Regions from separate parts of the Homo sapiens genome. Here all the other regions are linked to region 2. The links come from fine-mapping of genetic effects on gene expression. A gene starts in region 2. Each other region holds a variant in brackets. All regions are shown on one strand. Distances are from middle to middle. Region 1 overlaps LOC105374662 (a long non-coding RNA gene). Region 2 holds the start of RTN4 (reticulon 4). Region 3 has its middle 45 kb from the start of RTN4. Region 4 has its middle 20 kb from the start of RTN4. Region 5 overlaps EML6 (EMAP like 6).

The links. PIP is the estimated chance that this variant, and not a neighbour inherited with it, causes the effect. A credible set is the group of variants that fine-mapping cannot tell apart.
Region 1: its variant is the best candidate, but not a certain one, in a credible set for the expression of RTN4 in whole blood (TOPMed, PIP 0.62).
Region 3: its variant is the best candidate, but not a certain one, in a credible set for the expression of RTN4 in atrial appendage (GTEx, PIP 0.79).
Region 4: its variant is the best candidate, but not a certain one, in a credible set for the expression of RTN4 in sun-exposed skin (GTEx, PIP 0.57).
Region 5: its variant is the best candidate, but not a certain one, in a credible set for the expression of RTN4 in pancreas (GTEx, PIP 0.53).

Annotation. Positions count from the first base shown.
Region 1 is chr2:55,081,865-55,086,971 of GRCh38, forward strand. It overlaps LOC105374662 (a long non-coding RNA gene), which reads left to right. Exons shown (of 3, transcript XR_002959387.2): 2 at 314-443; 3 at 4,983-5,107. It also overlaps a transcript of RTN4 not described here. Among named protein-coding and RNA genes, the nearest start is that of RTN4, 34 kb to the left of the region's middle. The variant C/A (reference allele first, on the strand shown) is at 1,960.
Region 2 is chr2:55,048,475-55,053,581 of GRCh38, forward strand. RTN4 (reticulon 4) reads right to left here and starts at 1,977. Exons shown (of 9, transcript NM_020532.5): 1 at 1,271-1,977. The coding sequence starts at 1,826. RefSeq lists enhancers at 983-1,795, 1,758-1,807 and silencers at 1,298-1,417, 1,558-1,617.
Region 3 is chr2:55,092,928-55,098,034 of GRCh38, forward strand. It overlaps a transcript of RTN4 not described here. Among named protein-coding and RNA genes, the nearest start is that of RTN4, 45 kb to the left of the region's middle. The variant G/A (reference allele first, on the strand shown) is at 3,120.
Region 4 is chr2:55,068,098-55,073,204 of GRCh38, forward strand. It overlaps a transcript of RTN4 not described here. Among named protein-coding and RNA genes, the nearest start is that of RTN4, 20 kb to the left of the region's middle. The variant T/C (reference allele first, on the strand shown) is at 2,921.
Region 5 is chr2:54,916,041-54,921,147 of GRCh38, forward strand. It overlaps EML6 (EMAP like 6), which reads left to right. Exons shown (of 42, transcript NM_001039753.4): 26 at 719-895. Among named protein-coding and RNA genes, the nearest start is that of RTN4, 130 kb to the right of the region's middle. The variant G/C (reference allele first, on the strand shown) is at 2,823.

The DNA of each region.
Region 1 (5,107 bases), 33 kb after region 2:
AAAAAAAAAAAAAAAAATGAGTGAGAGAGAGATCTATCCCCTGCCTTTTTGCTAATCAAGATTGCTAATTCATTTTTATCAAATATGATGAAAAAGAGGCCTTACATACTTCTGCTTTTTTCCCTCATGCTGCCTTTAAATATAACAGCCATTTGATTCTTTCAGGTAGATGGGTACTTTACTTGGTAGAAGGCCTAAACTGAATTTCAACCCTTGACATAGTCAAGAAGCATAAATGTGCAATAATCTGTATAAAGACAGTATCTTTAATCTCTTTACAGAGATTATTTCTAACTGGCTATACCACTTCCAGGTATGGAACAGGCTGACAGAGCTGGATCCAAAGGGCTCAGAATGGAGCAACCAAGGTGTATTCACCTGATGCTTTGGTCTCCCTAAGCTCTTCCATAGAAACGATCATATATCACCTCGGCAATTGTTTTGTAAGTACTCAGAGATTATATCACAACAAAAATGCTATTGTAGATTCATATATCTCTCAAAAGCCAGAGACTTGAGAACAGCCAAATCAGGAGCAGCCACCACAAACCAAACTACCACACTCCCAACATGCTCCTGAAACAGGCCATCCCCAGCAAGCCCAGCCTTGGCGACTGGCCCAATTTCACCCACCCCTGGCCAGGTAGAGACCAATCTATAACACATTTCCAAAGCCTTATCTGTCTATAAGCCTTGGCTCAGTGATTCCACTTAAGAAAATAATCCTAAATTTCTGCAAAGCTCAAGAAAGCAAATATGTATTATGCTAAGTTCTATGCATCATAAACCATGGTAGGTGTTGGAAACAATAAAATTATTGCTTGCCCTTATGAACTTTATAAAGTGAACTGGAAATTTTATACTTCTCATTTACTGAATGCCTCCTATGTACCAGGTGCTCTACTAGGCATTTTATATGTGTTATCTCACTTAATCGTTACAGCCTATAAAATATAAGTAGTATCACCCATATCTCACATTAAAGCGGTTGAGTAATTTGTCCCAAGTCACACAGCTAAGAAGTAGCATTTCTCTGAGACCGCGCCACTGCACTCCAGCTTGGGCAACAGAACGAGACTCCGTCTCAAAAAAAAAAGAAGTAGCATTTCTGAGATTCAAACTCAGGTCTAAAGCTTTTCAAATTTCGTGTTTTACCCACCAAGCTGCATTATATATTTTAAATAACAGTAACAACATCAACAACCATCTAATGTAAACAATAGAGGAATGAGTACATAAGTTAATATCAATAGGTTGGATATGCAGCCATTAAAAGTGATATCTATGACAGTTTGTCACAACACAGAAAATTGCTTGCTTATAAATATAACAATAAAAACAGGATGTGGGGCTGGGTGTGGTGGCTCATGCCTGTAATCCCTGCACTTTGGAAGGCCAAGGTGGGAGGAACACTTGAGACCAGAAGTTTGAGACCAGCCTGGCCAACGTGGCAAAACCCCGTCTCTACTAAAAATACAAAAATTAGCCAGGCATGGTGGTATGCACCTGTGGTCCCAGGTACTTGGGCAGCTGAGGCACGAGGATTGCTTGAGCCTGGGAGGCAGAGGTTGCAGTGAGCCAAGATTGCGCCACTGCACTTCCGGCCTGGACAACAAAGCGAGACTCCGTCTCAAAGAAGAAAAAAAAACAACCAGGATGTGAATTCATATACTATGATTTAAACTATGATTAAAACACATACACACACACGTACTAGAATAAAAAGCACATTTAAAAAAATAGGTAAACCTCCTGCACTTTCACTTAAATAATACAAAATTAAGGGAAACTATAAGGGGAAAAATTGTGTTTTCACATACAATTCAGACAAAACAGTTGACCCAAGCCTATTTAAAATGGGGACTAGATCCTCTTTCCCCTAACAGTTACTTTAAAAATTTCCTCTCATCATCCTATCTTCTGTGTGAAATAAGAAGAAGCATATATTTGGTCTGACCC[C/A]AGTTCCTGGCACACAGCTCCTAAAACCCTTGTAATTTCCTGAGCATCTCAATTGCTAGGTGCATTCTTTGTTCTAATATTTGGTCTTTGACCCTGGTTCCTGAAACAGAGCTTAATTCCTTGGAGTTTCTTGGGTTAAAGGAGCACCTTTTGTTCTAATGAGGTGACTCTTCATGGGTTTCTGGAAGGGGGGTGGTCACCAGAAAGACCAACCCATGATTAAAAGTTTGGAACTTTCAGCCCTACTCTGCAACCTCCAGGAAGGAAAGAGGGACTGCATTTGAGTTAATTGTTGATCATGTCTACATGATTAAGCCTCCATAAAAATCCCCAAACTACGGGGTTCAGAGAGCTTCCGGGTTGCTGAAATCATGGAAGGTGGCATCCCCTAAGAGGCCATAAAAGCTCACAACCCCTTCCCCATACATTGCCTTGTGCATCTTTTTCATCTGGCTGTTCCTGAGTTGCATCCCCCCTGCCTTTTTTTTTTTTTTTTAAATAGAGGTGGGGTCTCACTATGTTGCCTAGGCTGGTCTTGATCTCCTGGGCTCATGTGATCCTCCAGCCTGAGTCTCTGAAATTGCTGGGATTACAGGTGTGAGCCACCATGCCTGGCCATGAATTGCATCCTGTTATAATAACAGGTAAACAAAAGTAAAGAGTTCTCTGAGTTCTGTGAGCCATTCTAGCAAATGATTGAACCCCTGGGGGGTCATGGGAACCTCTGATTTGTAACCAAGTCAGACAAAAGGTGTGGGTAATCTGGGAACCTACTATTTGCACTTGGCATCTGATGTTTGGGGCAGTCTCATGGGATTGAGCCCTTAACCTGTGGCGTCTGTGCTGACTAGAGTAAGTGTCAGAACTGAATTAAATTGTAGGATACCCAGTCAATGTCTGCCAAGAAGTGGAGAATTGCTTAATGTGGCCAAAACTCACACATTTTGGTGACCAGAAACATCTGTGTTGTTGCTGTTTTGAGACAGGGTCTTGCTCTGTCACTCAGGCTGGAGTGCAATGGCGCAATCACAGCTCACTGCAGCCTGAACCTCCTGGGCTCAAGTGATCCCCCCTGACACTCAGCCAACCAACTAGCTGGGACTTAAGGCACACATCACCATGTCCAGCTAATTTTTAAAGAAAATATTGTAGAGACTAGATCTTACTATGTTGCCCAGGCTGGTCTTTTACTCCTGGGTTCAAACGATCCTCCTGCCTTGACCTCCCAAGGTGCTAGGATTAAGGCATGAGCCACTGCACCTAGCTCTTTGTTGCTTTGAGAGTATAAACAGTAGGAGAAGACATTTTAGGTTTTTCCTATTGCACACTGTATTAATTAGGGTTCTCCAGAGAAATAGAACTGTGTGTGTGTGCGTAGACATAACAGGAGATATATACACACACATCCTATTGGTTCTGTTTCTCTGGAGAACCCAAACACAGTGTGTAATAGGTGTGTGTGGGGGTGTGTGTGTATATATACATATACACCCACACACACACACATAGAAGGAGAGAGAGGTAGATAAATCTGTTCCAAGGAACTGGCAATTGTGGGAGCTAGCAAGTCCAAAATCTGCAGGGCAGCCTGGAGACCTGGAGAGGAGTGGGTGTTGCAGTCTTCAGTTCGATGGCAGTCTAGAGGCAGAATTTCTTTCTCCTCAGAGGAGCTCAGTCTCTTAAGACCCTCAACTGATTGTGTGATGCCCACCCTCATAATAAAGGGGAATCTGTTTTACTCAAAGCTGACAATTTAGATGCTAATCTCATCTTAAAAGTACCTCACAGCAACATCTAGACATGTTTGCTCAAATAACTGGGCACCATAGCCTAACAAATTCAAACATAAAAATGAATCATATTATAATCCTTCCCCAATCTACATAGAAAAAAATGAATGAGTATTTCACATCCTGAAACACAGGCTCATTCCATCCTTTGATAAACATTATTGAAGGCCTGGCCCCTTTCTAACGTTAGGCCCATTATGAGACATAAATATAATCTCGCTGCACATTTGTTGGATCATAACAAATCAAATCTGTAGCCCCTTAATGTTTACAAAATATGTTCATAAATACATCTTGTGTAATCTTCACAAATCATTATTGCAGTCCTCATTTGACCAAAAATAAGGCAAGAGAGAATACTCTGACACATCAAAGATTGTAGCGTCAATAGGTGATAGAGCCAACAAGAGTCAGATCTTCTGACATTTCTTCATCAGATAGAGCCCTTTCTTCATCACATGGACACTGTGAACAGAAGTAACACAGGTCCTCAAGGATAGCAGCTATTTTATTATTTCCCAATTAATCTACATTGAAAAGACACAAAGATCAAGATGCCTAGCTTATTCCCCTGACTGGGAATATAAAGTTGTAAAACAACTTTAGGAATTGATCACTGTCTACAAGTAGTGTTTAGTTTTGTTTTTAACTTTTATTAAAGTATAGCATGCTAACTCAGATTATAAGTTTACACCTCAATAAATTTTCACAAAATGAATACCCCTGTGTAACTGTTACCAAGATCAAGAAATAGAATATGACCAGGGCTGGGTGCAGTGGCTCGCACCTGTAATCCCAGAACGTTGGGAGGCCAAGGCAGGAGGATTGTTTGTGCCCAGGAATTCAAGACCACCCTGGGCAACATAGCCTGATCTAATCTCTACAAAAAAAAAAAAACATTTAAAAATTAGCCAAGCATGGTGGTATGCGCCTGTAGTTCCAACTGCTAGGGAGGCTGAGGTGGGAGGATCACTCAAGCCCACGATTTCGAGGCTGCAGTGAGCTGTGATCACACTACTGCACTTCAGCCTGGGCAACAGAGGGAGACACTGTCTCTAACCAACATAATAATAATAATTAATAATAATAATAACATCAGTATCTCAGAAGCCCTTTTGGGGCCCCCTTTCAGCCATCATCTTTCCCGCAAAGGTAACCACCATCCAGATATCTTTCACTGTCAACCAATTTTGCCTTTGTTTTCAACTTTAATTTATTTTTTTTTTTTTGTAGACGATTTCTCACTGTGTTTCTCAGAATGGTCTCAGACTCCTGGCCTCAAGCGATCCTTCTGCCTGAGCCTCCCAAAGTGCCGGGATTACAGGCATGAACCACTGCACTCAGCCTGTTTTCAACCT
Region 2 (5,107 bases):
ATTCTTATTCTATAAGCTTTTTTCTATTTTTTTTTTAACTTTTGTTAAAAACTAAGATACAAACGCATTACCCTAGGCCTACACAGGGTCAAGATCAAGACGTCGCTAGGCGGCAGGAATTTTTCAGCTCCATTACAACCTTATGGAGCCACCGTTGCAAATGCGGTCTGTCCTTGACCTAAACGTCGTTATGAGGCACGTGACCGTATTTTGATTCTGTAACCTAAAACATATCCTTCTGAAAAACAGTATTTCTAACCAATATATATGAAAATGTCTGTCTCAAAACATTTCTCTGTGTCTCATGGTAAATCTGCCACGAGTTCAATTAGCCAATTCCTGGCAAGGAATCCACAGGTTTTCCCTTCTTTAGGAATGTCAACCATTTTGCCTTTTATTTTTTTCTGTAAGATTCAATTATGATGCACTAAGAGGCTGGGCCAAGTCCACACTAACAGCAATTCCTCCGACCCTGCAGCTGAAACCCCGGCAGAACTACGCCCCCTCGAACACAATGCCTAGATCCCCTTTCCCTGGCTCGGTTTAGCTGGTGGGGAGCAGTCCACATCACACCCCGGGGAGCTGGGCGGTGGCAGGACTTTACCAGAACTCTCTCCTTCCCATTTCTCCACGCACCACACCACTGGAGGCGCTCTCCCTTCACTGCGGTTGGGTCAATGTGGACGTTTTCCACTCGGCCAGCTCCCCACGAGCACAGGAGGAGGGGGAGGGGAAGCGCAAAGGGGCCACCCACGCCAGCCAGGAGGTGAGGAGGGAGCCCGGGGCAGAATGCAGGCCAACAGACCCGCAGCAAAACTGCACCTTTTCCAAAGGAGCAACCCAGACGGGTAGACAAAAGCACCTCCTAAAAATATCTGGGTGCCAAGGCCTTTCCTTCCTCACCTCGAAGCCCAACCAACCCGATAAATCCACAACCCTGGCTCTCGGGTATATACCCGGCTCCTACTACGGGTGGGTGCCTAACTTCCGAGAATCCGTACGCTGGGCATCACACAGGGTGAAAGTGGGAGCCGGGAGCGGTGCACGTGTTCCCCGAAACCAAGACGGACAATAAGAACAAACCCGGGCTCCAAGGGCCGCCCCACCCTTCTCCCCGCGCTTCCAACCAGACGGGGCGCCATCGCCCCGAAGTCCGCAGACAAAGCGCCCTCGGGGCGGAGAGGAGGGACCAGCCCAAAGCATCTGGGGCTGCACACAAAAGAGGGAGGGGCGCGAGGGGCGGCGCGAAGCGAGAGGTCGCGGCACTCACCCACTGAGCCCGAGGAGCCCCTGCGCTTGGGCGCGGCCGGGGTGGAGGGGGGCGCGGCGGGAGCCGGGGCTGGCGGGGTCCACACGGGCTCTGCCTGGGGGCTCACGCTGGCCGGGGGAGGAGGGGGAGGCCGGGCCGGAGGCTCGTCGTCCTCAGGGAGCTTGGAGGGCGAGACTGCGGCAGCAGACAGCGGGGATGGCGCGGGCACGGTCGACGACACCGGGCTCGGGTCCCAAGACGGCTGCCGCTCCGGGGCGACGGGGGGAGCGGCCGGCAGGGGTCCCCGGGGCGCCGGCGGCACGAAGTCATTTCCGAAGTCCATCAGGGGCGCGCCGGCGGCAGGGGCGGTGGGCACTGGGGCCGCGGACAGCCCGGCGGCGGGCTTCCTCTCCAGCACCTCCAGCTCCTCCAGGTCTTCGTCCTCGTCCTCCTCTTCCTCCTCCTCTTCTTCCTCCTCGTCCTCGGGCTCCCTCACGAACTGGTACTTGAACGCGGGCTGCGGCCGGGGTGGGCTGTCCGAGGACGAGACCAGAGGAGACTGGTCCAGGTCTTCCATGGCTGGAGGGTGGAGATGATGCTGCAGCTGCTGCCGCCGCCGCCGGGGCCGCGTCTCAGAGCCGCGGGCGGTTGTGGGGGTTGGGGAGGACTGAGAGGGGCTGGGCCGACTGAGCCGAGGGACCTACTGTGGTGACGGCTCCCGGAACAATGAGACTGCTCCTCCTGCCTCCGCGCCGGTGATGCGCCACCCGCCCTGTCCCCACTTGCCGCCGCCGCCCAGATGAGCTAGGAGTGAGGCCAGCGGACTCTCCGCCCAGTTTGGCGTGACTCACCCTCCCCAGGGGAGGGCAGGGACTGGCGCGGGAGGGAGAGAGCCAATCGGCTACAGGATCGAGAAGATAGGCGACCAGCCGGGCCAACAGAAAGGGAAGGAGATGAAAGTGGGTGGGGACTACGGCACTTCCTCTCTCTTACCGGCTGGGATTGCGTTCAATGGGCGGGGCTGAGAGCTGGGAGCTCCACCCCCACTTTGGGTAACCGTGAGTTGGGGTGGGGTCTTGGCCTTGCCCGCAGCTGGCGTCCGTATGTCGTTAGAGCACTGGGAAAGGGGGCGGGCTGCTGGCTGGGAGGGGTCGGCGCGGTTTCTGGCGCGCCACCGGAAGGGCGTTATCCTGGGGGAACTGAGAGTGGAAACTTTCCTCCCGGGAAAGGAAGAAACCCGACTGGAGAAAGGTATTAGCGGGACTGGGAAGTGGGCCCTAAGGATTTTTAAAGATTTTTGAAATAAAAGATTATTTGTTCACTCAAAGTTCCAAACTACATCACTACTACTACCACCCTAAAATAAGAAAAAAATTGTTTTTTGACAGTTAGGCTCACTCAGTCTAAACCGCAGCCCCCGAAATTGGGAGGAAAACAGCTGTGCTGAATTAACTAGGGATCTGGGGCCGACCATTTGAAAGTCTGCTCTTCTTCCAAAGAGAGTTTGGGGCCTTGCCTGCTGGACTCTTACATGGTAAGAGAGTGAGTCACCCAAAGAGAGAGGCAGCGGGGAGACAGGAAAGTGGAAATACAAAGATGCCTTGGAAAGCTAATTTGGTTCACGTTACATTTCAGTCACCTTAGGTTCATGAGTCAACATTTCGGATGATTCAGGCTTTCTGGGAGTCAGGAAGCCCCATAGTCATTGGTTTGATATGCAGGAATAAGCATGATCCCCATTCCACTTTTTATGAGGCTGGAGAGTTTAAAGAGAGTAGTTGCAGAACATCTTTGTAAGAATCAGGATCCTTTTATCTTTCTGATTTACCTTTCAAAAATATTCACTGCATGCCTACTCTGGAGGCCCTGGAGAGAAGAGGATAACCTGCTTTCAAGTTGCTCAAAGTCTAAATCTGTGCTGTACCTGACAGGTACTGGCTACTTGTGGCTACTGATTGAACACTCGGAATGTATGTAGCTAGGCTGAAATTAGATGTGCTGTAAGTGTAAAATGCGCACTGGATTTCAAGAATTAGTACCTCCGAAATGTAAAATATCTCAGCTTTCCTGTTGACTGAATGTTGAAATTGATATTTTGGATATATTGGGATAAGTATAATATTATTAAATTAATTTTACTTGTTCCTTTTAAAGCAGCTTCTAGAGTTTTTTAAATACATAATGGCTCACATTATATTTCTTTTGGACAGTGCTAGTCTAGATTAATAATTAAGAAAGTTTGATTGCCATGGGGAATCACTGGCAAATTCTTAGCTCCAACTAATTTATATTACTGTGGCTTAATTTGGGTATTAAAAAAGAAAAGTAAGAGTTGGAGGGAGGGATAAATAGGTGGAACACAGAAGATTTTGGGGGCAGTGAAACTGTTCTGTATTATCCTGTAATGGTGGATACATAACATTATGCATTTGACAAAACCCACAGGACTATACAACAGAAAGAGTGAACCCTAATGTAGACTATTGACTTTAGTTAATGATATATCAATATCAGTTCATCAGTTGTAACAAATGTACCACCTCAATGCGTTATGTTAATAATAATAGAGGAAACTGTGGTTAGGGGGCAGGAGTGAGAGTGTATGGGAACTCTGTACTTCCTGTTCAACTTTTCTGTAAACCTAAAACTGCTCTAAGAAATAAAGTTTATGAACCTTTAAAAAAGGAAAAGAATAAAGATTTCCTGGCAATGTTACTTGATTGGGTTAATTATCAACAATATATTCAAGACCTATCACATTAATTCCACGGAGAACTGGCTTTATTTGTGCAAAACGTTTGTGACTTGCTTTGAGTTTGGTGTTATTTTTTGGAGGGGTTGGGAAGAGTAGGAAGAGAGATGTATTGATGTAGAATTTTGGGGCGGGAAGTTAATGCCAAATGAATTTAAACAAAACAAATTTCTACAATGGTGACTACAAGAGACATATTTGAAGTCTTTGTCAAATATTTATCAAAAATTATAAAAAATTTGCCTGATTTTCAACCAATTGCATAAACATACAAAAATATACTAACAGTATTTTATGATACGACCTTTTCTATTGTCACAGTTTAGCTATCAGCAGTCTTCCCCGCATGCTTTTCCCACTATGACTGTTCTGAAATTCCTTAATGATAAGTTTCACAGGGCCTTTATGTATGTCTAATATAAACAGGACTTACGTTATTTGCAAGTTGTTTATATGATATTTCTGCATTCATATATCCCTGTACCTACTACTACTAAAATAGTCTCAAAGGAGTATCTTTAATCAAAGTTTCACAAAAGAATAATTATAAATAGTAGATTTACAATTTTAATAGGAAATAGCAGTTAATATTGATGCAATAATATAAGCACTATCTGGTGCAGAATAAAAATAAATTTTATTAATCTCAGTGACTTCTAAAAAAATAAGTATTTGATAGATAGATGAGTAAAGAGTTTGCCCAGCTTTCATAGAATGATCAACAAAGCAAAAAGAAAGGAGGCTGTTGCTGCTCTACCACAATTAAAAGTAAAGCTAGTTATACATTGTTGTAACTAGATGTAAATATCACTATCACTAACAAAATTCTGGTGGACATTTGAACCAGTTAAAAGAAAAATGCACATTCTAGATACTAATAATAGTTTTAAAATAATTATTCAATAATTTATATTTGAAAATAGCTTATCAGACGGGCACCGTGACTCATGCCTATAATCCCCGCACTTTGGGTGGCTGAGGCGGGTAGATCTCTTGAGGTCAGGAGTTTGAGACCAGCCTGGCCAACATGGTGAAACCCCATCTCTACTAAAAATACCAAATTAGCAGGGCATGGTGGTGCACACCTGTAACCCCAGCTACTTGGG
Region 3 (5,107 bases), 44 kb after region 2:
GGGTAAAACTTTTTTGTTTGATTTTAAAAATTCACTTTTTCACTTATCTATTCAGTGTTGCTTACTGAGTTCTGACCACTAATAAAAATAACCATTGTGTGTGTGTCTATGTGTGTGTGTACGTGTGTAAAATATCAGAAGATAAGAGCCTTGCATTGTTCTAAGAGCTGCTTGAAAATGTCTGTGTTTTGATAGCTTATGATGCACATTCGTGGGCCAGCCAATTATAGTGACAGCTCTTTAATGAAGAAATGTCATACACATTAATATAGAATTTGTATTTGCTCTTAGTAATACCTGTAAGTGCCTAGTTCAACAGTTTTTGTGGTTGAAATGCTAAAAAATACAACTGAAATGCTGTTGAACTCTAAATGGCTAAATGCATGTATACCTGTATGTTGTTTTATTTACAAACACATAAACATATGTGTGTATTTTATACTTAAATAATTTATTCTATATATATTTAATTTATTTTATATATATATAGAATAAATTAAGCAATAATGTCCCTGGGCCCAAAGAAAGTATTCTTCATTCTCCTGTTACGCCAGAAAGGTGTTTATTATGCTGAGGGAAGTTCTTGCACTCATAACCTCTAAGTGATTCCGCAGCATAGCTTAGAGGTGATGCTTCTTCCGGAGGAAGCCCTGAGTCATTATCTGCATCTTTCCTGAGATCTGGAGAGTACAAGGGTACCAACACCTCTCCCTCCACGAGGCCAGGGGGGATTAGGAAAGAGTCAGAGATGAAGGAGAAAAGGAGAAGAGAAATTGGTAAGAGGAAAAAGGGTAAATGTCTCAATTGTTTCCTCCTCTGATTACAGCCAGAGGAAGGCAGTCTGAGGGCCCCTTAACTAACTCCCTGTTAAGGTCTGGCAAGGATATAATGCATTTCATTTAGCTATGCTTCTGTTACTTGAATGGTTTGCTTTTTCTAAGGGAAATAGAATTGGGAAAGGAATTATAAGGAAGAGAATTTTCTTGCTTTTATTCTATTTATAAATGGAATATGAGAGGGACATGGAAATAGCATGAAAGAGTCACAATTTTCTTACGATCACTAATATCCTACACTAATGTATCTGGGTGGCAGAGCGGATGGAGCCATAATGGTGTTTGTTATGGACTGAATCATGTTCCCCCAAGATTCATATGTTAAAGCTGCACCCTCAGTGTGATGGTATTAGGATGTGGAGCCTTTGGGGGGTAATTAGATTTAGATGAGGCCCTGAGAGTAGAGTCCCCATGATGGGATTAGTGCCTTCTAAGGAGAGATCTCTCTCTCTCCACCACATGAGGACACAGTGAGAAGGCAGCTGTCTGCAAGCCAGGAAGAAAGCCCTCACCAGGAATCCATCAGCACCTGCATTTTGGGCTTTTCAGCCTCCAGAACTGTAGGAAATACATGTTTGTTGTTGAAGTCACCCAGGCTGTGCTATTTTGTGACAGTCGCCAAGCTGACAAAGAGAGTGTTTTACATGAATTAATTAAGCAGATAATTCCTGAGCATCACTAGCACTCTGGGTACTGTTGCGCAGTGAAGTATAGAGCAGTGACCAATCAGGTGAGCTTCTGCTTTCATGGGACTTCAGTTTGAGTGGGAAAATACGCCACATACCATAAACAAGTAAACAGACAAGTAAATATTAGATAGTGATAAGAGCCATGAACAAAACACAACAGAGCCATGCTATGTGGAGTGACTGGGGAGGGGCTACTTTAGATCAGGTCATCAAAGGAGGCTTTCTGGGCAGGGGACATTTGAGATGAATGACAAGGAAGAGCTGACTAGGAGACAATCTGGTGGAAAACGTTTGAGGCACAAGGAACCATGGTGCTAACATCAGGTCTATGTAAGACTGACAGTTACCCCTGAGTTAGGTCAAGCAAAGAATGAAGTGGACTTGAGACAGGCTTGAGTGTTAATACCCAAAAGTGAAAGCAAGAGATGCACAGCAAGAAATTCATATAAGAAACTTCAGATTTTGAATACCAATGAAATAACCATGGTTTCCGAGTGACCTCCTACTCCACACAAGTCCTCCTCTTGTATTTCCCGTATTATCGCCATACTCCATCCACACAACATGCAATATCCAAATACCATAATAAGGCTGGGCGCGGTGGCTCACACCTGTAATCGCAGCACTTGGAAGGCCGAGGCAGGTGGATCACCTGACTTCAGGAGTTCGAGATCAGCCTGGCCAAAATGGTGAAACCCCGTCTGTACTTAAAATACAAAAATCAGCTGGGCAGTAGAGGCATGTGCCTGTAATCCTGGCTACTTGGGAGGCTGAGGCAGGAGAATCGCTTGAACCTGGCAGGCGGAAATTGCAGTGAGCCGAGATCGTGCCACTGCACTCTAGTCTGGGCGACAGAGTGAGATCCTGTCTCAAAAAAAAAAACACAGACAAAAAAACCCAAATATTATTATGAGGTTAATCACATCATCATCTACCTTCAATTAATTTTTGTAAAATAATTTTAAAAATTAACATCTTATATTTGTGAGGTCCATTTGTTATAATTGATGAACCAACCAATGTTGATACATTATTAATTGAAGTCCACACTATTCAGATTTTTTTCTTTTCTTTCAGTGAAACCCTGTCTTACTTTGCTGCCCAGGCTGGAGTATAAGTGGCTTAATGAGGGCTCACTGTAGCCTTGACCTCCCAGGGTCAAGTGGTCCTCCCACCTCGGCACTCCCTATCTCCCTGCCCCTGACTCCCCTAAATAGCTGGGACTATAGGCACTCGCCACCACACCTGGCTAATTTTTAAATTTTTTTTGTAGAGATGGGGATCTCACTATGTTGCCCAAGCTCTATGCAGATTTCAAATGCCCTTTTCCTGTTAGGATCCCATCCAGGATACCACATTGCATTTAGTCATGCTTTCTTAGGCTACTTTTGGCTCTAACAGTTTCCTAGACTTTCCCTGTTTTTGCTACCTTTGACAGTTTTGAGCAGGGACTGATCAGGCAATTTGTAGAATGTCCCTCACTTGGGATTTATCTGATGCTTTTCTCCTAATGGGACAGTGGTTATGGGTTATTGGGAGAGAGACTACAGAGGTAAAGTACCATTTTCATCCCACCATATAAGAGCGCATGCTG[G/A]GCCGGGTATGGTGGCTCACGCCTGTTCCTAGCACTTTGGGAGGCCGAGGCGGGTGGATTACCTGAGGACGGGAGTTCAAGCCCAACCTAACCAACATGGAGAAACCCCGTCTCTACTAAAAATACAAAATTAGCTGGGCGTGGTGGCGCATGCCTGTAATCCCAGGTACTCAGGAGGCTGAGGCAGGAGAATCGCTTGAACCCGGGAGGCGGAGGTTGCTGTGAGCCAATATCACACCATTGCACTCCAGCCTGGGCAACAAGAGCAAAACTCTGCCTCAAAAAAAAAAAAAGAGTGCATGCTACCACCAGGACTTATCACTGCTGATGCTGACCTTGATCTCTTGGCTGAGCTTCCAAGTGATTTTTGATTCCTCATTCTCCCATCCCTGGAATCTATCATTCATCAGGCCTCATCTAATATATCTCTCAAGGTTCTCTCCCAGAACCCACTCCTCATCAGCATTATCTCCACAGTCTCAAGTCTAAGTTCCCAGACTGTTCTCAGCATCCTGCACCACGTTATCAAAGCTCTAATCATAGCCTTTCTCTGGCTAAATAATCCCACTTAGGAATAAAACTTTTGTCTTAGTTGGAAGTTAAGGTCCAAGGTTTTCAGTGTTGCTTTGGGGTCTTTTTCTCAATCTGAACGCAAGCTACTTTCCAGTTTTGGCTCCTGCCCTGAGATCTGGGTGCCATGCTAGCACTCCACCACACCCTCTGCTCATTCTGTCATGCTGCAGCAGTTACTGTTTATTAAGCTTCTGTCCTGTGCCAGGCAGCTTTCTGGGCCCAGGAATACAAAAAATACGAAGAAAGGCTTCCCTACACTCAAGGAATGAGGTGTAGTTGGAGTGACAGTCATTGTAAATGGATAATTGCAAGGTTGTTAGGTAGATGCGAGGTATTTATTTGGGCATGTACAAATTTTAAAGGGAGCAACTAGGCCAAAGCCCCTCACTGTGGCCCCAGTACTTAGGGGAGATTATACTAAGATAGTGATATCTGAGCAATGATTTCAATAAAGAAAAAAGTTCACCAAGCAGACAAGAGGCCAAGAGAAGTTCTAGGCAGAGGGCACAGCACGAACTAAGGCATGGCCACTAAGCAATTTAATATGGAAGTATTTGCAAAAGATGAGTAAGAGCTAAATTGTGATAAAGGAGGATTGCTTGAGCCCAGGAGGTCAGGGCTGCAATGAGCCCTGATTGTGCCACTGCACTCCAGCCTGGATGACAGAGTGAAATTCTGTCTCAAAAAAAAAAAAAAAAAATTCCTTGGCCTCAGTCCAGACTCAGAATCAGAATTTCTGGGGTTGGGGGGAAAGCCTGGTAATTCTGCATTTGTAATCAAACCCCAGGTACTTCTTGTAAAGAAAGCTTTGGAACACTGGTACTCTAAGAGAATAATAGAAAACAAGATCAAAACAAGAAGAAACTGGAGGCAGAAAGAGCAGTTGGAAGACACTTGCTATTGCCCCAGAGATGGCAAAGCTTGAACCAAGGAGACAGCAGTGGGGGAAGGAGGAGGGGCAGCTTCAGGAGGCCTCGAAGAGGCAGACTGTCAGAGGTAGAGCTGCAGACGCCACCCAGGCCTCTAAGGATTCTATCTTGAACACTTTCATAAACATTGGGAATATGAGAGACGGAATAGGTTGCTGGGAAAGATAATGAGCTCAGTTTTGGAACATGTTGACTTTGAAGTGAAATCCATAATGAAGAGCTGACACTTGAACAGGCTGTTCTGGAACTCAGGATAGAGGTCAGGGCTGGAGATAAGGATTTCTGAATCATTTGAATCACCAGTGTATAGGCAAGAGCAGGAAAAGTGAAATTCCCCCAGGAAGCAGGTGGAGTCTGAAGGGCCAAGAATGACATATGGAAGCCTTCAGCACTCCCGCCCCTCCTCATCAACCTTCAGCCTCATCTTTCTCCTCTGTGCCCTTCCCCCAATCTCTTTTTCTACCTCACACAATTTTATCAAAGGCC
Region 4 (5,107 bases), 20 kb after region 2:
TGGTTGGAAATGGGAAGAATATTTTAATGATTTTTTAAGATGATTGTGGATATTACTATTTGGTACCATATCAAAACTCAATAAGTAGTAGTTTCTTAAAGGTGATTTGCAGTGTGGAATCTGAAAGTATATCGATGAACATTTCCTACCCTGCTACATTAAAATCCATTGGTCTGTCTTGCACTCTGAATGGATCTTTCACCCATGCATCATCTAGTAACATCATATTGAAAATATCAGTACATAGACTTATTGATATCTTCCCAAGCTTGACACATTTCCTTAGATGATATTTTAAAATCATATTAATCATATCATCATTTCTTGCATCAGAAAAGTCTTTTAGTACTAGGAAACTGTCATACTCACAGTGGTGAATACAGGTCTTCCAAAATTCAAAATTTTAGTTGAAAACCCAAATTTTATCTTTAATAAACTACTGTCAGTTTTTCTTTCCTCAAAATGACAGGTTTACTTCATATGTTTTTGATTAAAGTTCTGCTGAATACCCAAGTTTGAATAACCACAGTTTGTCTGCCAGTCGCTCTTTCAAGTGAAAAATGGTGCTCTACAAAAAAAAAGGGGGGGGGGTGGGGGCTAGTTTGGCTTGCAGCTCAAATAATTGCATAAATGATTTGCTGAAGACAATCACTTTTGTACTTCAGTATGCAGCAACAATGCTTTCTGTGTACTTTCCATTTTATCACACAGAATGTTAAAAAATGGGCACTCAAGGGTCAAGATTTAATTAATACTTTTTACTACTTTGACAAGGACCTTCTTCAGTGAAACCGGCTTTTCTTTTTACTGTGAGTGCATGGAGGTGAAGAACACAAAGACAATTAGTGTACTTTAAAGCCACTGCCTTGATTTGTGCCAAGGCACCCAAAGTTCGCATCACCATTGCTTCTGCATCATCAGTGCAAAATTAGAGAGAAGTGGCACAAGGGGTGGGGAGAGGGCAAATAACATCTTAATATTATTATAAAAAGAGTTTGGACCTTGCAGACTTTCTGAAGAAATCTCAGGAGGAGCACCCAGGGGTCTGTGAACCACACTTTGAGAATTGCTGATCTAGATAATGACTAACACATTTTACCTAGCTCAGAAAAAAACCTAATTAGACTGGTTTAGTCCAGTCGTCTTCAAGAAATCAATTGCTTAGAGTATGAAAGTTCTAACCTTTATCAGTGAGATAAAAGTAATGCTTCTCATCCATGTCAGCATTCTTCTGGAAAATAAAATCCAAAATTACCTGGTCCTCTGTAACCGCCCCCCTCAAAAAAATCAGAAAGCCCCTCTAATACTCTAAGTGTTCCTCTTAGTAAATTCAACTCTGCCATTGTCTAAAAACAAACTGAAAATATCTGCATGGCCAGAGACTACTATCCACAGGGTTTATTGCTATTACACAAATAAGAGTTACAACTTGTAGGTGAGTATGGAGTATAATTGTTCACCCTCCTTTCAGAAGTAGAGTTAACTTCTAGGAAAATTCACCTGTGAGTTTCCTCTAAGGCACTAAGGGAAGGCCTCTGCCTCCTCCACCCAAGCATTCTTCCAAAATTAATAATAGAAGCTGGCAGATAAGCAGTCTCCCAGAGAGGCCCAACCGACATTCCTGGGGGCACCTGCAGGGCCTGCACCTCCACCCATCACCCAATGTCCACGAAGTTCAGTGTTTTCTCTAAGAGAGCAAGAAAAAGAGACCACAGTGGAACTGAACCATGTCAATTTGATGTCAAAGAGGAAAAAGAGAGAAACACAGGTACATGAATTAAGCCAAATGCTGGCTGGAGAAGTAGGGATGATGACAACTGGGGAAAGGATTGAGAGAAGGGATGAAGAATTAAGAGAAAGCAGCAAATGTGGGGTAAAAGATGGCACATTATTGAACTCCCTTTTAAAATGTCTTGCCCAGTGGTTTCGATGGCAGAGACTAATCATAGGGCAAACTGATAACATGCCAAGCACCATTAACCAAGGCAAAGAGACAGTCTAAAGCAGGGGTTCCTCAACCTCAGAACAATTAAAACTATGAGCTGGATAGTCTTTGTTATGGGGGCTGTCTTGTGCATTCTAGGATGTTTAGCGGGATCACCAGCTGCTACTCACTAGATGCCAGTAATACTCCAGTAATACACCCTTCCCCAAATCCTCCCCACCCCCCCAAACAAAAGGCCAGGCACAGTGGCTCGCACCTGTAATTCCAGCACTTTGGGAAGCTAAGGCAGAAGGATCCCGTGAGCTCAGGAGTTCAACATAGCGAGATCTTGTCTCTACTAAAAATGTTAAAATATTAACCAGGCATGGTGGCTCACACTTGTAGTCCCAGCTACTCAGCAGGCTGAGGCCAGAGGATCACTTGGGCCCAAGAAATCAAGGCTGTAGTGAGCTATGATCATGCCATTGCACTCCAGCCTGGGTGACTGAGCAAGACTCTGTCTCAAAAAAAAAAAAAAAAAAAAAGAAAGAAAGAAAGAAAAATAAAATACTCCCTCCCATTTGCAATAACCAAAAATGCCTTTGGGAAGAGGGATGAGATTAGGGGTGGGGAGCAAAATTGACTTTGGTTAAAAATCACCGGTCTATTATTATCTCAGCATATAAAAATCTCCACTCCTATCAAGGACAAACAGCTGTTTTGATTTTTGTTGTTGTTGTTGTTGTTGTTTGTTTTTTTGTTTTTCGTTTTTTTTGACAGAGTCTCTCTCTCTTGCCCAGGCTGGAGTACAGTGGTGCGATCTCGGCTCACTGCAAGCTCTGTCTCCCGGGTTCACGCCATTCTCCTGCCTCAGCCTCCCGAGTAGCTGGGACTACAGGTGCCCACCACCACGCCTGGCTAATTTTTTGTATTTTTATTAGAGATGGGGTTTCACTGTGTTAGCCAGGATGGTCTCAATCTCCTGACCTCGTGATC[T/C]TCCCACCTCGGCCTCCCAAAGTGCTGGGATTACAGGCGTGAGCCACCTCGCCCTGCCTTTTTTTTCTTCTTTTTTTTTTTTTAATGGAACTTTGAAACTCCAAGCCCAGTCTAAGTTCCTGGAAATGGTTTCAAATTATGCTTAGCTTCTACAATAATAATTTACTGGCCACCAGGGGGTCTCTTGCTTGTGATCTACAAGACAAAATGTCTGGCACAGTCAGTCATCCTGGGTCCTATTACTACCTTGCAATTAACTCTTTGTGTCTCAGTTTCATCATTTCTCAAATGGGAGCAATAGTACCTTCCCTACCTTCTGTACGGGTGATTATAAGGAAACAACGAAAGGAGATGGAAAAGTGCTTTGAAAGTTAAAAGAAAATGTAACCAGACATAACTAAGTCATTACGGTCTTTTCAGAAACTGGAAACACATTAACAAACAACCCTGTGTGTTTGATGCCCTTTTCTACTTCTAACTACATAGAATTTGTGTTGCTGGTATAGGAGAGGCACCATTTGCCATCAAAAAAAAAAAAAAAAAAAAAAGCCAGTCATTTACTTCTGCTAATGCAGAGAATATTTGTGATCTGGTTCTATGAAAAATGCTGCAGGCGATCACTGACTTCAGACTGTCAATTTATAGATTACCCCTTTTTAGCAAACCATAGCCCATACCCTTCACTGATGTCCCCAGCACTGCCGCAGTGCCTGTGGTTGTCAAAAAACCACAAACAAAACCCCTGAATCTTTTTAGAGATTCTATGGATTTATTAGTGAAGGGAGGGAAAAAGTTGTAAAGATCATAAACAGTTTAGGAGAGAGCAGTTCAAATTACTTTGTAAAGTAAAGATGTTATAATGACTGGGTTAGCTTGAGAATTTTGGAACCCCAAAGAGATTCCAAGAGAGAGAAGAGGAGAAAGTAAAGTTAGAAGATTGCTAAAATCAACTTCATTTATTTGAAAATTTTCCAGAGTACAAGAAAGTCAAAATGTTCATCATCTTCCTCCTCCGCTTCCTGCAATAAGCAGCTCCCACCACTATCCCAAATCATTAAGATGTCCTTCCATGGTATGGGTGTGCCACAATTGGTGTAAACAGTCCCTTATTGATGTGGATTGTTTTTAGTTATTTTTTTTTTCAAAAAAAAATATGTAAAACTGGAGTAAACAGAGTCAAAGAAAAGCATTATTTGTATTTATATTTTCTTTTCTTTTCTTTTTTTTTTTGAGGCAGAGCCTCGTTCTGTCTCCCAGGCTGGAGTGCAGTGGCGCGATCTCTGCTCACTGCAAGCTCCACCTCCCGTGTTCACGCCATTCTCCTGCCTCAGCCTCCCGAGTAGCTGGGACTACAGGTGCCCACCACCATGCCCAGCTGATTTTTTGTATTTTTAGTAGAGATGGGGTTTCACTGCGTTAGCCAGGATGGTCTCGATCTCCTGACCTCGTGATCCGCCTGCCTCAGCCTCCCAAAGTGCTGGGATTACAGGCGTGAGCCACCGCACCCGGCCCAGTATTTATATTTTCTTAGGATACATTCTTGGTTGTGAAGCTTCTGGATCGAGGGGCATACACATTTTTTAAGTTTTCACTTTTGATAATAATTTTTTGAGCAATTTCTTCTCTTTAATTATCACAGTACCATCTTGCTGTTCTAGATATAACTGTACCACTTAGCACTTGAGCACGTGCCTAATGATATTCGATATGCATTCTAATTTTGAAATTCCCCAAAGGAATGTTTACATGATCTTCAAATCTGAAAAATCTCTAACTATAAGGATCACAACTATTACTGTTTTCTGCCATCTTTTACAGGATTACCATTTGTGCTTTATACTTCTTTATTAAATATGCCATGTTTATTTCAAATAATCAAAAGAGAAACTGTTAAAGTGTTTTTTCTGCAACTCTATCCCCTGAAAATGAGCTTCTTCAGTTGCTCGGCTCAGTTGCTCATTCTTTCATCTTATTCAATCACCCCTTCTAGCTTCCATCCCTCAATATAATTATTTATGTCTGCAATTTTATTAGGCAATTCTGTTAAGAGGCCAGACTGGGTTTTACATATTTTTAAATAAATTAAAAAGAAAAGTTTTACTGTACCTACTATACAACAGCAAAGAAAGACAATTCTAACTAGCCATGTGTCTCACAGAAACCACTTTCAAAAGTGTATTGCTATGC
Region 5 (5,107 bases), 130 kb before region 2:
AAAACAGTTTTAAAGGATAAAAGATTCATGGCAATAGAATATGAATAGCTCTTCAGATTTTTAAAGTAGTCTCTCTAGAGCATACAGGATATTAAGCTTGCTGCAGAATCTTATTACTTTTTCCTCCAAGGAAGCAGTCATGTTTTTTAAAGTTGTGTCTTGTAACTTTTTAAAATAATTGGCTAAATGATCATCTCCATTGATCAGCCTAGGTCAGTGATTCTCAACTGAGAGCAATTTTGTTTCCCAGGAACATTTGGCAATGCCTGGGGACAAGGGTATGCTACTGGCATCCAGTGGGCGGAGACCAGAGATGCTCTAAACATCCTGACACGCACAGGACAGTCCCAACAACAAAGAATTTTCCAGCCTAAGACATCAGTGCTGGCGTTGGGGAATCTGGATCCAGCTTATGGCTTATACAATGATAAATGTCTAGTTAAGAACTAAAATACCTTATTATTATCAAATTTCCACAATTTCAAAATGTTCATTTTATCTAGAGAAAAACATTTGGGTATTTGACTGCAGTGTTGGCTTCTGAAGACAATGCAAATAACCACTTTAAATATGCAACTTAGAATTTGTGTACCTCAGCACTCAACACAAATGCCTAACGTTGGCAAAGTAATTTAGAATTACTCAGGTGCAAACTGTTTCTTTTAAATAAAACAAACTAGGTTGTGCAAAAATATCATTCTCTTTCGTTCTTTTTCAGATCGAGAAGATAGAGTGGGACACATGGACCTGTGTCCTGGGGCCCACCTGTGAGGGAATCTGGCCAGCACATAGCGATATAACTGACGTAAATGCTGCCAGTCTTACCAAAGACTGTTCCCTTTTAGCCACCGGAGATGATTTTGGTTTCGTTAAGCTTTTTTCATATCCTGTCAAGGTAATATTGCGTGTTTATTATCTTTACTTGCTCAGTCTCCTTAATAACCTTAAATATTGTATCTAAGTGCATTTTTAAAAATTTGAAGTCATAAGCAATTCACATTATCGGAGTATTATTTATGCTGTATAAAAACCTCCCTGACATTGTGTTTGAGTGACTAATTTCAGTGCAATTCTCATGGCATAGAATTCTACCTTGAAAGGCCTTCAGTGGTCACCAAATCCAACATCTCACAAACTGCAAAGTAAGTGTTACCTTTACAACCTCACAGACCAGTGCCTTTCTAACTTTCATTAGGATACTTCCACAGATGAGGAACTTAATATCACACAGCACCCCAACTGATTTTTAAATACCTCCAATTGTTAAAACGTTTTTATCTATCTTGAGCTGAATTCTCTTCTTCCCTTTTTTTTTTTGTTTTTTTTTTTTTTTTTGTTTTTTGAGACGGAGTTTCACTCTTTTGCCCAGGCTGGAGTGCAGTGGCGCCATCTCGGCTGACCGCAACTTCTGCCTCCCAGGTTCAGGCAATTCCCTGCCTCAGCCTCCCGAGTAGCTGGATTACAGACGCCTGCCAGCACGCCAGACTAATTTTTGTATTTTTAGTAGAGAGAGGGTTTCACCATCTTGACCAGGCTGGTCTTGAACTCCTGACTTTGTGATCCACCCGCCTTGGCCTCCCAAACTGCTGGGATTATGGGCGTGAGCCACTGCGCCTGGCCTCTTTTCTTTTTAAATAAAGTTCTACCTTCTGAACCATCATTAAACCATTCCATTCCTCTAACAGCCGTCATCTGTAGTAAGATCACATTTGACTCCCCGAAGTCTCATTTTTTTTTCCAGCCTAACCTTTCTAGTTGCTTCAGCCATTTCCCATATTCGATGGCTTACAGCTGTCCCCTCCCTTAAGCACAGTCCAGTTTATCAATTCTTCCTTCAACTGTCTAGTCTAGAACTGTATTCAGTGTTCCAGTTGTAATCTGATCAGGTCAGAGCACAGTGGGACTGCTACCTTCTTGGTTTTGAGTTTTACACTTGTGTTAAATCAAACTAAAATGGCATTGGCCCTTTTGGCTGCCACACTACAAAATTGAATCATAGACGTCAATCTCAAAAATGTTCAGATTATCCCCAAGCCTGTACTTACACAATTGATTTTCTAAGATCTGAGTACAGAACTTTACATTTATACCCAAAGAGTTTTATTTATTTCTTCTCAGTGTTCCATCCTATCTGTATCTTTGAATACCTTGTCAGAGCATTTTCTCTCCCTTGCAGCATCATGTCATCCTCTGCTTTCACAATCCCGAGTTCTAAATCATAGAAAAAAAGACAGACTGGAACAATCACACGTCAACTCAAGGAACCTCCCCCTCAATTCAGTTTTACATTCCATTTATTTATTTATTTTAACTAATGAATGAATGAATGACAGGGTTTTGCTGTGTTTCCCAGGCTGGAATACAGTGGCACGATCACCGCTCACTGCAGCCTCTACCTTCTAGACTCAAGCAATCAATCCACCTCAGCCTCCCCAGTAGCTGGGATTATGTGCATACCACCATGCCCAGCTAATTTTTTTACTTTTTGTAGAGATGGGGTCTCACTATATTACCCAGGCTGGTCCCAAACTCTTGGACTCAAACAATCCTCCCACCTGGGCCTCCCAAAGTATTGGAATTATAATCATGAGCCACCATACCCAGCTGTCATTCTGTTTATTAATCTACACGTTGTAACAATTCTTTAATCAGTAACAGACATTTAAATTTACCCCCCTGTACAGTCATTTATCCTGGTCCAAGAAGACATCATTAAATTCTTGGCAAATGTCTTGCCTAAAGACAAGTGGATAGTGGTCTCTGTCATCCTTAATCTCTCCTTCTAATAAACCAACCAATAAAATATGTGAGGTTAGTTCACA[G/C]TGTACCCATTACTGTCTGGTTATCACTACTTCTTTTTCCAAATGCTTATCGAACTCCTGTGTAATATTTCATCCTAGAATTTTCCAGGGATTACATTACCTCATGAATCAATATTTTCCGGAGCCTATTTGTTTTCCCACTGGGATACAAGAACCGCTTTGTGTTTGATGCCACCTCTCCTGATTCCTAAACTTTTCAGCTATTACTGTATTATTTCTGTGGTCACGTTTGAAGGCACCTATACTCACGTAAATGAGTTCTGTTTTCTCCTTTGCGGTTTGAAGAACATTCTCTTTGACAGAGGAAATGAGAAATTGACTTTCAGTTCATGTGAAGCCACCTGATTGAGAAGTGTTCCTAACTTTCCTCTATTTTGCTTCCCCCCCCCCCCAATCCTTTTCAAAAGTCTTATTTTTTGTCTTTAGCATTCCAGAAACTACACTTAAAAGTTGGTGCAAGGCTTTTGTATTCAATCTCAATTATTTGCTACTCCTGTCATTTGTACATTTTAACCTGAACATAGCAGTTACCTCTATGGCCACTTTGGTTACTTTGGACACTTTTCCTTTCTTCTCCTTCCTTTGTTAATAACTGATTAGGTTATCATGGTGAGTAGCCCTGAGATACACATCTGTTTCTGTCCAGTGTTACGTTCATTGCCCATCCCAAAGCCGCCTGGCAACCTTCTGCCAATGATCTGTCACTTACCAGCCCTTCCTATTTGATCAGAATTTAGTTCTAAGTAGCCATTTTCCTTGCTATTTCTGTGTGTAAATGAAATTGCTAGCAGTACAAGGCAAAAAGTTAGTGATACCCTGGTTTTAGTAGACCAAGGTTTTGGAGCAGCTATTTAGATAACTAAATCCCCCACAGTACTATTGCATCTTGCTAGTACTTCCCCTACCTGACAAGGTGGCTTATCTATATATTAGTCATTTCAAGTTGTGTTCCTCAGACCAGAGTTCCAGGGAGGTATATCTCAGGTGGGAAGGAAGGAACCAGTGCAAAAGCTCTGGAATCCCGTTCCTGTTTCAACAAAGTTACACTATGTTTTGTATTTTGCACATTCATCTTCTGTGTATGCTTTTTTCTAAGATTTTATTGTGAAGATTTTGAAGCATACACATAAGACGAGAGAATAATATAGTGAACTAATAGAAACCCACAACCTAAATTCTGTAATTTAAAGTAAACTGTAGAATTAAGAAAGAAAAATAAAGATCTCAAATAACCTAACTTTACACTTCAGAAAACTAGGAAAAGAAGACCAAACTAAGCTTCCTGTTAGCAGAAGGAAGGAAATAATAAAGATTAGAACAGAAATAAATAAAATAGAGACTATAAAGAGAATAGAAAAGACCAATGAAACTAAGAGTTGGTGTTTTTGAAAAGGTAAAATTGACCAACCTTTAGCTAGACTAGCCAAAAAAAGGACTCAAATAAAATTATAAATGAAAGATGAGACATTATAACTGATACTGTAGAAATACAAAGGATCATAAGAGACTACTTTGAGCAATTACATGCCAACAAATTGGATAACCTGGAAGAAATGAAACATATCTGGAAATACACAGCCTACCAAAACTGAAGTGCAAAGAAATAGAAAATCTGAACAGATCAATAATGCACAAGAGATTGAATCTGTAATCAAGAACCTCCCAGAAAAGGCCAAGACCATGTGGCTTCATGTGTGATTTCTCCCAAGTATTTAAAGAAAAAATATTGCCAATCCTTTTTAAACTCTTTCAAAAAAAGAAAAAAAATTGAAGGGGAGGGAACACTTTTAAACTCTTCTTAGAAGGCCAGTAGAACCTTGATACCAAAACCAGATAAGGACATTACAAGAAAACTACAGGCCAATATGCCTGATGAATATAGGTGCAAAAATCTGAAACAAAATACTACAAACCAAATTCAACAGCACATTAAAAAGATCATACACCATGATCAAGTGGAATGTGTTCCTGGGATGCAAGGATGGTTCGACATATGCAAGTCAGTAAATGTGATGTACCACATAAAGAGAATAAAGGATAAAAATCATTTGATTATCTCAGTGGATGTGAGAAAAGGATGGACAAAATTCAACATCCTCTCATGATTAAAAACACTTCAATTAGATATAGAAGGAAGGAACTTCAATAAAGGCCATAAATGAAAAACCCACAACTAACATGCTCAATGATGAAAAGCCGAAAACTTTTCCTTTAAGATAAGGAACAAGACAAGGAAGTCCTAGCCAGAGCAATTAAGCAAGCAAAAGAGAGAAAAGGCATCCAGA